Homo sapiens: one gene and its partner. Each later gene encodes a partner of the first gene's protein in a complex. Each region holds a gene or a part of one and is shown on either strand. Other genes may lie near its edges. The genes, in order: PEX19 and PEX14. A codon is read from its position in the direction of its gene.

Region 1 (6,107 bases):
AACAGAGGATGAACAGTGCTTTTCCACTCAATGATTAACTGATAAATGTCTCTTTCCATTGATAGTTTATGAGTCTAAGAACTATCTCAGGCTTAAAAACTGGACAAGAAATGGGGACTTTTCTTTGAAGTTTCTGACTTCAGCCTTCTGTTCAACCATTCTTGATCTCCCTTATATATAAGACAATACTCTTCTTGGTTGCCCATCTATCCTGCTCCTAGGACCACTCACATTCCGTTAGCCATCTCCACTTTGACCTTGCTACCCTTAAGGAAATTTACTCACCTTGCTTCTGAGAGTTAAGTGTTGCCACCTGGCCTCTGCTATGTCAGGATCCTATCATTCCCCCACTGCTACTAGGAAAACAGTTTCTTTTACATCTTGTATCAGCTTCGATCTAGAGAGACAGCCACTTCTAAATTTCTCAAAGATGCTGGTAACCCTTCATCAGTGCCTTTCCCATTGTCTTTATTAAAAAATAATTCCCAGGTCTTTCTGGGGTAGTCAGCTGGTGGGTTTACCAGTGTTATATAACATTCATTCTTGCATACCCATTTCCTCTAAGTCTTTTGGTCCTTTTTTGTATGGTCTGCCGTCTCCACGTCATTCAATATGGGCCAATGTTTTCTCCTAGCTCCCCAAAGCCATCTTAACATCATATTATAACTGCCTCATGGGGCTTTGACAAGACCTTCCAGAGTCACAGGAAAATGTCCCAATTATCAAAAAGTCTGTATTAATTCAATTCTTAATTCATGAAGCCACCCATACAATCACAAATTTATCTAACACATTTAATTTTGGAACAAAGGAGCAACTCCTTTAAAGTTTGAGAGTCGCATAAATATTTCATATACAGCTTAAACCTAAGCTTTGTAACGATTATTTTTGAGCAGCAGAAAAGGAAGGCTAGAGAAATGCTAGAGATGTCCTTACTAGTGACACATTCTTGCTGAAGAACAAGTTCTCTGGAAGTGAAACTCAAATAGGAGAGAACAAGAGATACAGGTAGGTATCAGTTCTGCTAGGGTCTTCAGAGAGACCGAGGGCCCCAAAACAGTGCTACTCAAAGATGATCTGCAGACTTGTGCTGGTCAGTGAACACCTTTTTTTTTTTTTCACCAGTCTGTGACATGGTGAATTAGAAATTGAGAGTGTTTAAAAACTTTTTAGCATTTCAATGTTGCTGTGATATCCAAGTACATGATCAATGGACTTAACCTACAGAACAGTCTGGCCAGTTTGGGTGCTGTCAAACTTGCCGGGTCGGCAGCACACAGTGTGAACTCCATACCTGTCATGGGCAATAGGAATGCATATTGATAAGTGAAGGACTGGAAAACAAAAAACCTGGTCCTTTACCATACATAGTTTGAGAAAGACTGCCCTAGAGTACCATAACTCCACCACAAGTCCTGGAATAATTCCAAAAGTTTTTGGAACAAAGTGTGACCTGAGGTCAACCTGCTCACATTCAATCAAAATCAAAATAAAAATGAGTGCCTTGGGAACAAAGATAAAGTGGACTAGGGCATCTATTTAGATTCCTGGAGTAAGCCCTGGCTAGGCTAGCAGAAGTGAGAATCTGTAAAAGAAAACTGGTAGGACAGAAGGCACAAGGTTCATAGAGAAGGGCTCTTTTGTTCTTCCCTCCTCCTCTCTATCCTTGTCCAGTTTTTGGCTGGAGCTTTAAGGAGAAAATAGTGACACTGAAGCCCCATGACTATATCACAAGTATACCTGTATTTTTTCCATCTCTGGCAGAACAGAGACGTTTTACATTCAGATCTGGGCTCTTCCATGCTCTGGTAAGGTATAGGAGTTGGAATTTCCCAAATAGCCTGAGACCTTGAGAACATTTCCTTCCTCACCAATACCATAAAACATGTAAGGTCTTCAAGGGGTGAAAAGTTTTAACCTCGGGGCAAGTGACATGTCAGAAGCTCAAAGCGACTCATAATGCATGTGAATTTGCTTTGGAGAGACTTATCTTCTGAGTGAACCAGGACAGCCAGCTGAGCTGACCAGAGTACCTACCAACATATGTCAGCCAAGGTCCGTAGACCCACTGGGAGCCACAGAAAAAAAGCCACGTCAGCTTAAAGAAAAATAATTTAGAAAACATAACAATATATTACTAACATTAATAACAATAATGTAAAAGGTTAAAATATAATACCACTTGAAGGGCTTTCTACATTGAAATACTCAAGGGAACATGAGGAAAGATGGCCATCCAGTCTCCTTTGCCAACTGAGGTGCAGACTGAGTTGTGGAAGGTGGGTGTTGATGGAACCCAGCATTACAATATTGTGTAGAACTAGTCTCCTAATATACCTCACTCTGCAACTTACGGAAGCTGAGGAAGATCAGAAAAAGACCACACTCCTCACTCAGAATATTTATTATATTCTGCCCCATGGGGCCTTGCAGGAAAAGGGACCCAAGCTATACCCCTACTCCTTTTCCAAGCTACTTTCCTGAACCAAGGGACAGGATTCTAAGAGAATCATGTATCTCAAATAAGCCAGAATGTATCTGGGGAAGAATAGCCATTAATTTCCTAGACCTGACACTGGGTTTATTTGTGTCTGCCAGGAAGACGGGGAGTCAGTGAGAATCGTAAATGGACTAGATGAGGGGAAATAGGATGGGCCCTTCTTTATCACAGCTTGAGCTCAAAAAGGTTGGGATAAACAGGTGTTTAAAAAAGAGAGGAGGTAAAAGGGAGGATGGGCAGGGGATAGAGGAAGGTCAGGGGCTGGGTTCACCCATATCACACAGCATTGTAGGAAGAAGCAGGGTAACCATTTGAGTTCTCAGCCTGGAACAGGGAGGTGAGGGCTCAGCACCTAGAGAGAGGAGAATCCTAAGGCCTCTCTTTCAACTCTATTGTGATTAGATGCAAAAGCCCTTTCCCTTTAGAGAATTCAGAATGGTCTGTCTGAAGGCAAGAGAGCATAGTGACAGACCTGTAGCCCCAGCCCAGGCTGTTTCTCCCCATTCTCAAAGGCTCTGCCAGGAGAACTATAGAAATACAGAGTCCCAGGTCTCTGCCCCTCCTCCCCAGATCCAAGAGAGGGAGTAGAGACAAGGCACAAAGACCCTGGACGTAAAGGTGAACATCAGTGTGGCCACATATAACATTATTTTGAGAAAGGAAAGAAAGTGCATGCCCCAAAAGGGATGCCTTCCTTCACCTTGCAGGTAGCTGGAACTTTGATAGTGGCAGAAACCACAATGGAGTAGGGTTCACAGAAATGGCCTGTGAAACAGACCCTATTCCTAGAGAGACAGAGGAAAAACCTCAGCTGGTATGGCACAATCTTGAATGGGATGACAGAGGGCAGCGGGCAGACTTCTCCCGCAGGTGACACTCCTGCCTCAGGTCCCAATGGTTCTGCTGACTCCAGATGTTCCCCATAGCTGGGACTCAGAGAGGAAAACGTGTTGTGTTTCACATGATCAGACACTGTTCACCACTGGCACCTGGTGGGCCCGAAAGATTGAGGGCATCCAGGTCAAAGTTGAGGCCAGGAGGCTGGGGAAGAGATGAAGGGACTCAGATAGTTGCTCATTTTTTAGGACAGACGTGAAGATCCATCCCCAGTAGCCACAATTTTCACCTTAGGTGGAATCCTGAGAGGTTAAAGAATTCTGGAAATTGGGGACTCAAATTAAAATCTGGAAAAATAAGACATACTCACCATCTCTCCAGCCAGCTCTTTTGGAGGATGGCCTAAATCTTGTAGCTAGAAAATAAGGAAAATGGAACATGAAATAGAGAAAAGCCCAGAAAACAACAGAGGATCCAGAAGAGGAATCTAATGAATGATCTCTCTATTTCTTCTGAGAGAGATCACAAGAGAGGATCCCTCCTCCACCTAGGTCTAGCAGTATTGCATCCTTCCCAGATACTTCCTTCACTGAACACCTAAGTGGACAGCACCAGTGGGCAGAAGGCAAGAGGCCTTACCTGCTGCATAAGATCCAGCACCATCTCAAAACGAGCCTTTTGAGTGGTTTCACTGTCTGTGGGGGTCTCTGCCTCAAACTGCTCACATATTTTGCACATGACGCTGTGCTGCTCCTGATATTTTTCAAACTGCTCTGGAGGTAGAGATTCCCGATGACTCTGCAACCATTCTGGATACTAAGAAAAGAGAGAATGGGTGGAAAAGAATTAAGTGAACAATGGATATGGATGGGTAATCAGAACAATGTGATTAAAATGTGAAAGGGAAAGGGACGTAGAAAAACGAAAAGCTAAATAAGTAAGTTCATCATGAAAAGCGGCACTGACTCCAACCAGATCACCTGGCCATGTTAGCATTTATGGTCACCAGAGATTGGTAAGCTTCTGTAAAGGGCCAGACAGTGAATATTTTAGGCTTCAAGGGCCACATATGGTCTCTATTGTGTTTTTTTTTTCTTTTTTTTCGAGACAGAGTTTTACTCTGTCACCCAGGCTGGAGTGTGATGGTGTGATCACCACTCACTGCAGCCTCGATCTCCCCAGGCTCAAGCAATCCTCCCACCTGAGCCTCCCCAAGTAGCTGGGTCTACAAGTGTGCACCACTGTGACTGGCTAATTTTTTTGTATTTTGTAGAGACAGGGTTTCATCATGTTGCTCAAGCTGGTCTTAAACTCCTGGGCTCAAGCAATCTGTCCACCGTGGCCTCCCAAAGCGCTGGGACTATAGGAGTGAGCCACTACGCTCGGCTATTGCACATTTTCTTTGTAGTTTTTTTCAAATGACCTTAAAAATGTAAAAACCATTATTTGCTAGAGAGTTGGATTTGTCCCACCCAGGTCTTGGCCTGCTGACTCGTGGTCTGTACTATTCATTACACACTTACCCACATTTCCCCATGTCACTGAAAAGCTTCTATTCCTGTATTTTATCTCTCCAGTAAAACTATACACTCTTTAGCCAGGTGTGGTGGCTCACACTTGTAATCCCAGCATTTTGGGAGGCTGAGGTGGGAGGATCACTTGAGCTCAGGAGTTTGAGACCAGCCTGAGCAATATAGTGAGAGCTCAACTCTACAAAAAATTTTGAAAACATTGGCCAAGCATGGTGGCACACACCTGTAGTCCCAGCCACTCAGGAGGCTGAGATGGGAGAAACACTTGAGCCTGGGATGGGGAGGCTGTGGTGAGCCAAGATCGTGCCACTGTGCTCCAACTGGAGCTAGACCCTGTCTCAAAACAAAATGATACAACCACACATATAAGCTCTTTTATGGCAGGGACCATCATTTAAACTACGCTTACACTGTTCACATCACAAAGCCAGTAAGTAAATCCTCAGTTAATTCTTTTTCTTTTTCAGATGGAGTCTTGCTCTGTCACCCAGGCCGGAGTACAGTGGCACAATCTCAGCTCACTGCAACCTCTGCCTCCCAGGTTCAAGTGATTCTCCTGCTGCCTCCTGAGTAGTTGCGATCACAGGCGTGAGCCACTACGCCAGGATAATTTTTGTATTTTTACTACAGACGGGGTTTCACCATGTTGGCCAGGCTGGTCTCGAACTCCTGACCTCAGGTGATCCACCCGCCTCGGCCTCCCAAGGTGCTGGGATTACAGGCATGAGCCACCATGCCCAGCCAAATTCTTGCTGGAGAAATGAAGTCAGAAATGCAAGATTGATCAGACAACAATCCCAGAGTCTTGAACCAGTTTATAGAAAACTAGAACTGAAGGATTTCCTCTTAGACCCCAAACGTTATACCTCTTATACCCCAACATACCGTGTGACAGCTTTATTCTCTCAGAGACACAACTCTCCCCAACCCCCAACTCTCCCTGCCTCAAATAAATAAAGAAGGAAAAAAAGCACACTCGAGTTACTCTTTCTGCAGGCTCTGAGTAGACAAAATAGCCCACATCAGTTGATGTGATGGAAAATGAAGAGAAAAAGCAGAAATGGAAGTTCACAAACCTTTTCTGTGATCTCCTTCAGTGATGGGTACAGCACATCCTTGGAGAGTAGGTTCTGCATAATACTCTGCATGATGGGGAGGATGTTCCCTTCCCCATCCCCTTCGTCCATGCCTAGCCCCTCCATGGCCTTGGTCAGCTCTTCTTCCGACATGCTGGAGTT
Region 2 (7,280 bases), about 150 Mb from region 1:
GTTACTACACAGGGCTACAAAAGAAATAAACAGAGGAATAACTCACTCTCTCTCAGGATTTCTAATCAAATGGTTCAAAACCTTTCACCGGCCTCAGATGCTGACATCCTATTTTGAGAAGAAGCAACTGAAGCTCTAGGTCAGTCTTTGAAGGGGTTTAAATTGTTTATCAAAGACAGTGGAGGGAAAATGTTCAAATCTAAGAAGAAATTATTATCCTACAAAATTTACACTGGTCCTGCTTATATCTCAAAGCTTCTTGGTCTCTCTGGGAGGACGAAGACAAATCAGCTTGGCGTGAATCAATCAACCAGCATTTATCAGACCTCTGCTCAGGACTGGGCTAGGCCTGCACCTATACACATGCACTGACTCCCGATGTAAAGCCAGACAAGAAACCAAAATGAGAAATGGAGAATTTCAAATCTTCTCTCGAATCACAGCCTGACTTCTCCTGAACTGTACCAACTTTCTTCTAGCCCCCGAGAGCACTGGTTTATGCTCACACCAGGTGACACCAAGCTTCCCCTTGGTGCCAACCTCCTATCACTTTCACAAAAGCCTTCCCTGACTCTAGCCCACATTAATTCTTCTCTTTTCTATATTTCAGAATTTCAGAATTTCTTGTCTGTATAATTAATTTTGGCATTAAATCACAACATCTTATATTATTATCCTTTTCTTAAGAGTTTATCTTATCTTTCCCAAAGAGCTTAGCAAGATGCTTAAAGATCAGGTTTTGGATCTCTCGCATGATATAGTACTGACCGTATAGTAGATGGTTAATAAAAATACTGAGAAATTGAACTGTTACTATTTGGGCAGGTCTCTACGTTCTCTCTGCCAACACTGGCATTTGCTAACATCTCAAGGTCAACCACATTCACCAAAGAACAGAGATGCCAAAAGAGGCACTCAGTGGCACACCTGCCACTGAGCAGGTGGGCCAGCAGGTTCAAAGGTGAAGAGCACTGGGCTCCCTGGGGTGGTCTTGGAAAAGCTACCCTACCCTGAGACCTGAGTGTTTGGGGCTAGGCCCAGGGGATCCCATTTTCTAGCCTTGGGCTCAGAGATGGAATGTCCGTAAAAAGCCAAGAAATGGGAAGGAAAAGGCTGCCGGGGATCTAGATGTAAAATCGGCAGGAACACACATGAATAGAGGCCATAAATCCCTCCCGACGCAGACAATGCCTCAGTGATAAGCATGCAGATTGTGCACCTAGTTCAGAAACTCCCCTGAGTTTGCTTGTAATTAAGGGGGTTAGAAAAGTAAAAAAATATATAAACCCAATTAATCATTTAAATATTTAAAGTCAGATTTTTCCCTCACTCCAGGATTAGTATATTTCATAATGCCAGCAGCAGACAGCCCTGGTTTTTACTGGGGTTCATTTTGGAGCATGTTTAAACTAGTCAGATTGAGTGATGCTTCCAGCAACTAATCGCATGTCAAATAAAAGATATTTTATGTAATAAATTACCGCTACAAGTAATTCAAATGTCATTTATCAGTTTTATTATCAGTCAGGCAAAGTCTTGTTTCTCTATATTAATCAAAATCAAGCTTTTTTTTTTTTTAAGCAGTTTTGACACCTCTTGGCAAAAGTACAGAAGTGAAGAGGTAGAGTCACCCCCGGAGTGAGAGGAGCAATGTAACGGTATGAGAAGAATGAAGCTCAATGATGACAACTAAAAACTTCAGGTATTTAAAATTATCATTACCATTGTTTTTACACTAGTGTCAAAGCAGGAAGAAGTCTGTGTCTAAGAATGTGTATTTTATTTTTAGGGGCTGGAAGGCTCTTAAAAATATTCCTACCTAAATACCTCAACGTGTATTGCTTTTTCTCAGAGCGATCTGGACATGAGTATGATTTAAATAACTGAATTGCCCCTCCCCACCCCATTCTTTTGCCTCTTTCAGAAAGACTAACAGTTTAACCCTTTGTGTCTATGGAAAGTAGGTGAACATATGATGTTTTAGGCCAACTCTGTGATCAACCAGAACAATTTGTTCTGAGTAAGAAGTTTCCAAGTAGCCGAGAGACCTGTTCGGTATTAAGCCACTGGAGGAAACAGCTGGAACAGAACAGATGTGCATCTTAGAAAATTCTGCACCCCAGCTGCCGCTGCCTATCCTCAACAAATCCCATTACACGGCTGGGCCCAGGGACACAACTAAAGAAAAAGTGTGGAGACTCAGCCTTTGGTTAAAAAGAAGCACATAAAGTCAGCTTAGGACCCAAAGCAACTACAATGGATTGGAAAAAATGCTGGCCAGGAAGGAGAAAGGAGCCCCAAGCTGACAAGTCACAGGTGCTAACCCAGTAGCCCAAATACAGGACAAGGCTCACCACTGAAGCTCTGCAACCTGCAGTGGGTCACCCATGCAAGGCACTGACAGATTGACACACTTGAGCACACACTCCCTGGCCTCCCCCATTCAGCCTTCTGTGGACAGCCAAAGGAGGAGATCTCTAAATAAGATCCGTAACACAGACAGCAGATTCCAACCCACTGGCTGGCCCTTCAGCAAGTCCGGAGAAGAGAAGGCCTTTTTGGCTCTACTGCCAAGATCACACCTGCCTAGCTGCAGCTGAGCTGGATGAAAACAGTGCTGAGGTGAGGGAAAGAAGGCAGCTTCAGACCAGGTGCTGGGGGATCAAAACGAATCTGTCATTTTAAAATATGCCTTTTAAAATCTGATATCTAACACTTTTTTTTTTTTTTTTTTTTTTGAGACAGAGTCTTGCTCTTGTCACCCAAGCTGGAGTGCAATGGCATGATCTCAGCTCATTGCAACCTCCACCTCCTCGGTTCAAGCGATTCTCCTGCCTCAGCCTCCTGAGTAGCTGGGATTACAAGCACCCGCCACCATGCCCAGCTAATTTTTGTATTTTTATTAGAGACAGGGTTTTGCCACATTGGCCAGGCTGGTCTCCAACTCCTGACCTCAAGTGATCCGCCCGCCTTGGCCTCCCAAAGTGCTGGGATTACAGGCGTGAGCCACCGCGCCCGGCCTGTCTGTTTTTTTGAGATGGAGTTTTGCTCTTGTTGCCCAGGGTGGTCTCGAACTCCTGACCTCATGATCCACCCGCCTCGGCCTCCCAAAGTGCTGGGATTACAGGCGGGAGCCACTGCGCCCGGCCTTAAAATCTGATATCTAACAGTTTTAAATCATTTTTTGCAAAAATAAAACTTCTGAGAATAACAATTATAGAAAAGGCATTTTGAGAGATCACAGATCCAGTATTGAGTTTCTTTATTTTATTTTATTTTTTTTGAGACAGAGTCTCACTCTGTCACCTAGGCTGGAGTGCAGCGGCGTGATCTCGGCTCACTGCAACTTCCACCTCCTGGGTTTAAGTGATTCTCCTGCCTCAGCCCCCTAAGGAGCTGGGATTACAGGCGTGTGCCACCACGCCCGGCTAATTTTTTGTATTTTTAGTAGAGACACGGTTTCACCACGTTGGCCAGGCTGGTCTCGAACTCCTGACCTCAAGTGATCCGCCTGCCTTGGCCTCTCAAAGTGTTGGGATTACAGATGTGAGCCACTGCACCCTGCCTGTTTGTTTTTTTGAGGCAGAGTTTCGCTCTTGTTGCCCAGTCTGGAGTGCAGTGGCACGATCTCGGCTCACTGCAACCTCCACCTCCCGGGTTCAAGCAATTCTCCTTCCTCAGCCTCCTGAGTAGCAGGGATTACAGGCGCCTGCCACCACATCTGGCTAATTTTTTGTATTTTTAGTAGAGACAGGGTTTCATCATGTTGGCCGGGCTGGTCTCGAACTCCTGACCTCAGGTGATCCACCCGCCTCAGCCTCCCAAAGTGCAGGGATTAGAGGCGTGAGCCAACGTGCCCGGCCCAATGCTGAGTTTCATTAAAGAAACAAAATGGAGCTATTTTCCATAACTTTGTAGTCAATTTTAGCCTTTTTAAACTTTTTATAAGTGATTTCAAGGAGGGCTTCTGGCTGCATTTTGGAGGTATGCATTTATAACTTGTTTGAAGAAACTTTATTCCTATAGTAGCTTTCATTTAAGACAACGAAAGACCCCTCATGGGTCATGATCTCGTATAATTAAAAGAAACATTCAAAAAGGAACTTCATGTTTTAACCTGAAATTCCCTAACAGACCGCTACTACATAAACGTACAAAGTATAGCCAGGACAAGGGAGGGAGGGAAATGGAGGCTGACCTAAACTTACAAATATTAACTTAAAAAAATAGAAGTGGGAGACAGGTTATTGCAGTGAGCAAACAAGAATGCACCCATGAGTCAGATGGTCACGCTGTTTTTAGTGAAACAGTAACATTCAAAAGCACTGGTATGAGGAGATGGGAACAGAATCAATAAATAGTTGTACAGGTTTTCTGCATGTAACCAAAATACCTGAAACAACAATAAAATCATTTATTCTGATCCCTTGTCTCTTCTTAAACCTTTGTCACATACTTTAAAAAGTTTGTCTAGAAGACTGGGGTGTGTCACATTCCTTGGGAAAAACCCAAGAGCTTTCTGCTGCTCCCAGTTTCTCCTGGTTTGCTAAGTCTGGGAGATACAGAACACTGCCCTTTGGCCAGAGTCCTGAATCCCAATCAAGGTTAAGCAGGAGTTTGAGCGGGTGACTTACTGTATGGCTGAGATATGAGGTGAGGGGGCTGGACAGGAACCACCTGTGTGGCTGGGCCCAAGGACGAAGGCTCATCGGCAGCAGTGCCCGACTGCTGGAAGGCCATATCAATCTCTTCATCTGTCAGCCCTGGGGAGAAGAGGACATCATTGCAGGTGAGTACCTTTTGTCAGTGTCCATAGCTGCAACAGAATCTTCACTGAGCAAAGACCTTTACAGCCACAGAATGCCTCGCATCCTAGTAAGTTGCCTCCCCGATTTCAGATTCTCCGGAACCTCTCTCAGTTGCAATTTAACCTTAAGCGACAGAATATTAGCCTCAACACTGCTTCCAAATGTGGCTCATTCAATTTCCTTAATTTATCCTTGAGTTTATTGCTGCTTTTGAAGTCGCTCGGTACTGCAATTCTCCATTCTTCCCCCGAAAACAGATACCATCAACTGCAAATGTGGCTCATTTTAATCTGTAATGGTGTTAAAAAAAAAAGAGGGGAAAAAACTAACAATAATGCACGAAAACAGACAGGGAAACAAAAAACTAATTATTGGGTGAGACGACTAATTAGTCTAGATCGTTTCTGAAGACGGGAATAATTTGCTTTATTTTATGACAAATGCAGAAATAAAAAGAAAAATCAGGACTGACTGTGATTAGTATGAATGGGATATAGAATGTAAAGAAGAAAATAAAACAAGAAAACAGATCAAAACAAGGCCAGGCCCAAACTTTCAGATGATTATTATTCTAGCCTATCACACGCTGCCTGTATCGCCTTTGGCTAGTTTTTCTTTTCCCTTCTTGAAATCCTCCCGACACTCTAAACCACACCATACATGGGACATCAGGAAGTGGCAGGGCGCCATCTGCAGTGGCTATGCCATGTGGAGAGGATTTGCCCACAGAAGAATAAAAGGCAAATGAAAACCCATGAAGGCCGCATTTCCAGTGGGGACACAGCTGGGATATTTCCACCGGGTCTGAGCCAATTTGGGACACTGACTCTTGGGAGGAGGAAGAGAGCCCCATCCAACCCAAAGAACAGAATGAAATGTGGCGCTCAAGTATGAAAGGAGCGGTCACACGGGGCCAGCTCAGGAAGTAGCTGTGTGTACAAAGGCACTCCAGCTGCTGAGAGTGGGAAAAGCAGGTGGGAGGTCACTGTTAGTCTGCAAAAGACCACTCGGCCAGCCCTTGCTGTTCCAGGAATCCCAACATCCAAGCGAGCCGCAACACAGAGCTTTTAAACTACAGCCGAGAGCTTTTCCACATCTGGTCGGCAGCTCTCCATTAGAGGCCCACAGCATGGTATATTTGCCCCTGGGGGTAGATGAAGTACAAGGAGGTTCTGAGGATCAGCATCTTCAAAAGGATGGTGCCTCATACTCCATGCCTAGGGGCTAATAGATGGTGCACATTAATGCTTTAAAGCACAGCTCCGCCCTGCACCATACTGGCATATGAGTTGACTGCAGCCACCCCTCAAACTTTTCATGCCCTACCACAGCTAGTCAAAGGAAAATGCCCGAACTTTTCTAAACAGCCCTGGACTCTTTTTTCCCTTCTCTGTGCTGAGGAGTTGAGGACTATCCCCATTTAAAACTGCAGCTGTTCCCCTCTTTACCCTCTTCACACAGTGGAGCTGGCCAAGGGCAGGCACAGCCTCACCACTGGGAAGTCTGAAGAGCCACCGGGTTGCCCTGATAGCACCATGCTCTCAACAGATTGGTGGGCTGGATGAAAATGCTTCCAGGGTTCACAGCGCATCACGTACCACCTTCCAAAGACAAAAGCTGAAGGTCAGTAGAGTGGAGCTAGAGAGGGGGTGCTTGCTGCAAAGGGACTGCTTTACCCATAATTTCACCTTCCAAGAAGAACAGGGACAGGACCAACAGGCAAGCCAGGCAACAACAGAGAATACCCCCGCCCTGAGTTTGTGCCTCTCAGGTTCCAGCCTGTGTAGTGACTGCCGATCGCTCCGACTAAACAGGAAGGGGAACCCCTTTCGGAGCCCTGGTGGGAAAGACATTGTTTTAACCAGTTCATAATCAGCCATTAGAGAAGAAAGCAGCATCTGCGATGTCAGCACAGGCTGATGGTCACTGGTACACTACGGAATTTTATAAACCTGGTGGTTCGTGTGCCTTGTCAGCCGCTGGCTGCAAATGAAGATAATTTTCCCAAAAGGAGCATTCAGTTGCATTCTCATTTTCCCTTTTGGCTCTTTCAAATATAAACAAGTACAATAATGTTTAACACTGGGGAAATATACAGTAAGTTACAGACTGTGCTGTGGCCCTGAGGGCCGGAGCTGGTTAAAGGGACAGGACGCCCTGCCCGCAGTTCTGCCCTCTGGCCCTGAGCTTTTATGAAGCCTATTTTCCTAATAAAACATGTTCCTTGCATTATCGCAGCCGAGCCCACTAGTGAGGCCACAGTTGAAAGGGCATCAGTACTTCCTTCCAAGCTCTTGTTTTTCACAGACGTTATCATTTGAGGCTCAAAATTTATATTGGCTGAAATTCTGATATCCCTGGTTCTCTGGGAGAGGCAGGATTTTGATTTAGTTACAGTAAATGAATCCTTTCTCTTCTTTTTAAAAGTAAGCGTTTTAACAATCTCACTGAATCACATTCAGAGCCGGGCCA

The links.
Region 2: the proteins of PEX19 (region 1) and PEX14 are in contact, whole or in part, in an NMR structure (PDB 2W85), measured with the Homo sapiens proteins. Residues at the interface, in NP_002848.1 of Homo sapiens: Gln67, Phe70, Phe71, Leu74, Phe75, Ser77; in NP_004556.1 of Homo sapiens: Leu28, Thr31, Ala32, Lys34, Phe35, Asn38, Ser39, Arg40, Val41, Ser44, Thr48, Phe52, Lys56, Leu58 (codon at 4,761).

Annotation. Positions count from the first base shown.
Region 1 is NC_000001.11:160,276,094-160,282,200, forward strand, and holds the end of PEX19 (peroxisomal biogenesis factor 19), read right to left. Parts: coding exon 5,946-6,107; intron 4,154-5,945; coding exon 3,977-4,153; intron 3,753-3,976; coding exon 3,708-3,752; intron 3,542-3,707; coding exon 3,458-3,541; 3' UTR 714-3,457; downstream 1-713. UniProt on the Homo sapiens protein: Necessary for early peroxisomal biogenesis. Acts both as a cytosolic chaperone and as an import receptor for peroxisomal membrane proteins (PMPs).
Region 2 is NC_000001.11:10,596,721-10,604,000, reverse strand, and holds part of PEX14 (peroxisomal membrane protein PEX14), read right to left. Parts: intron 4,764-7,280; coding exon 4,635-4,763; intron 1-4,634. UniProt on the Homo sapiens protein: Component of the PEX13-PEX14 docking complex, a translocon channel that specifically mediates the import of peroxisomal cargo proteins bound to PEX5 receptor.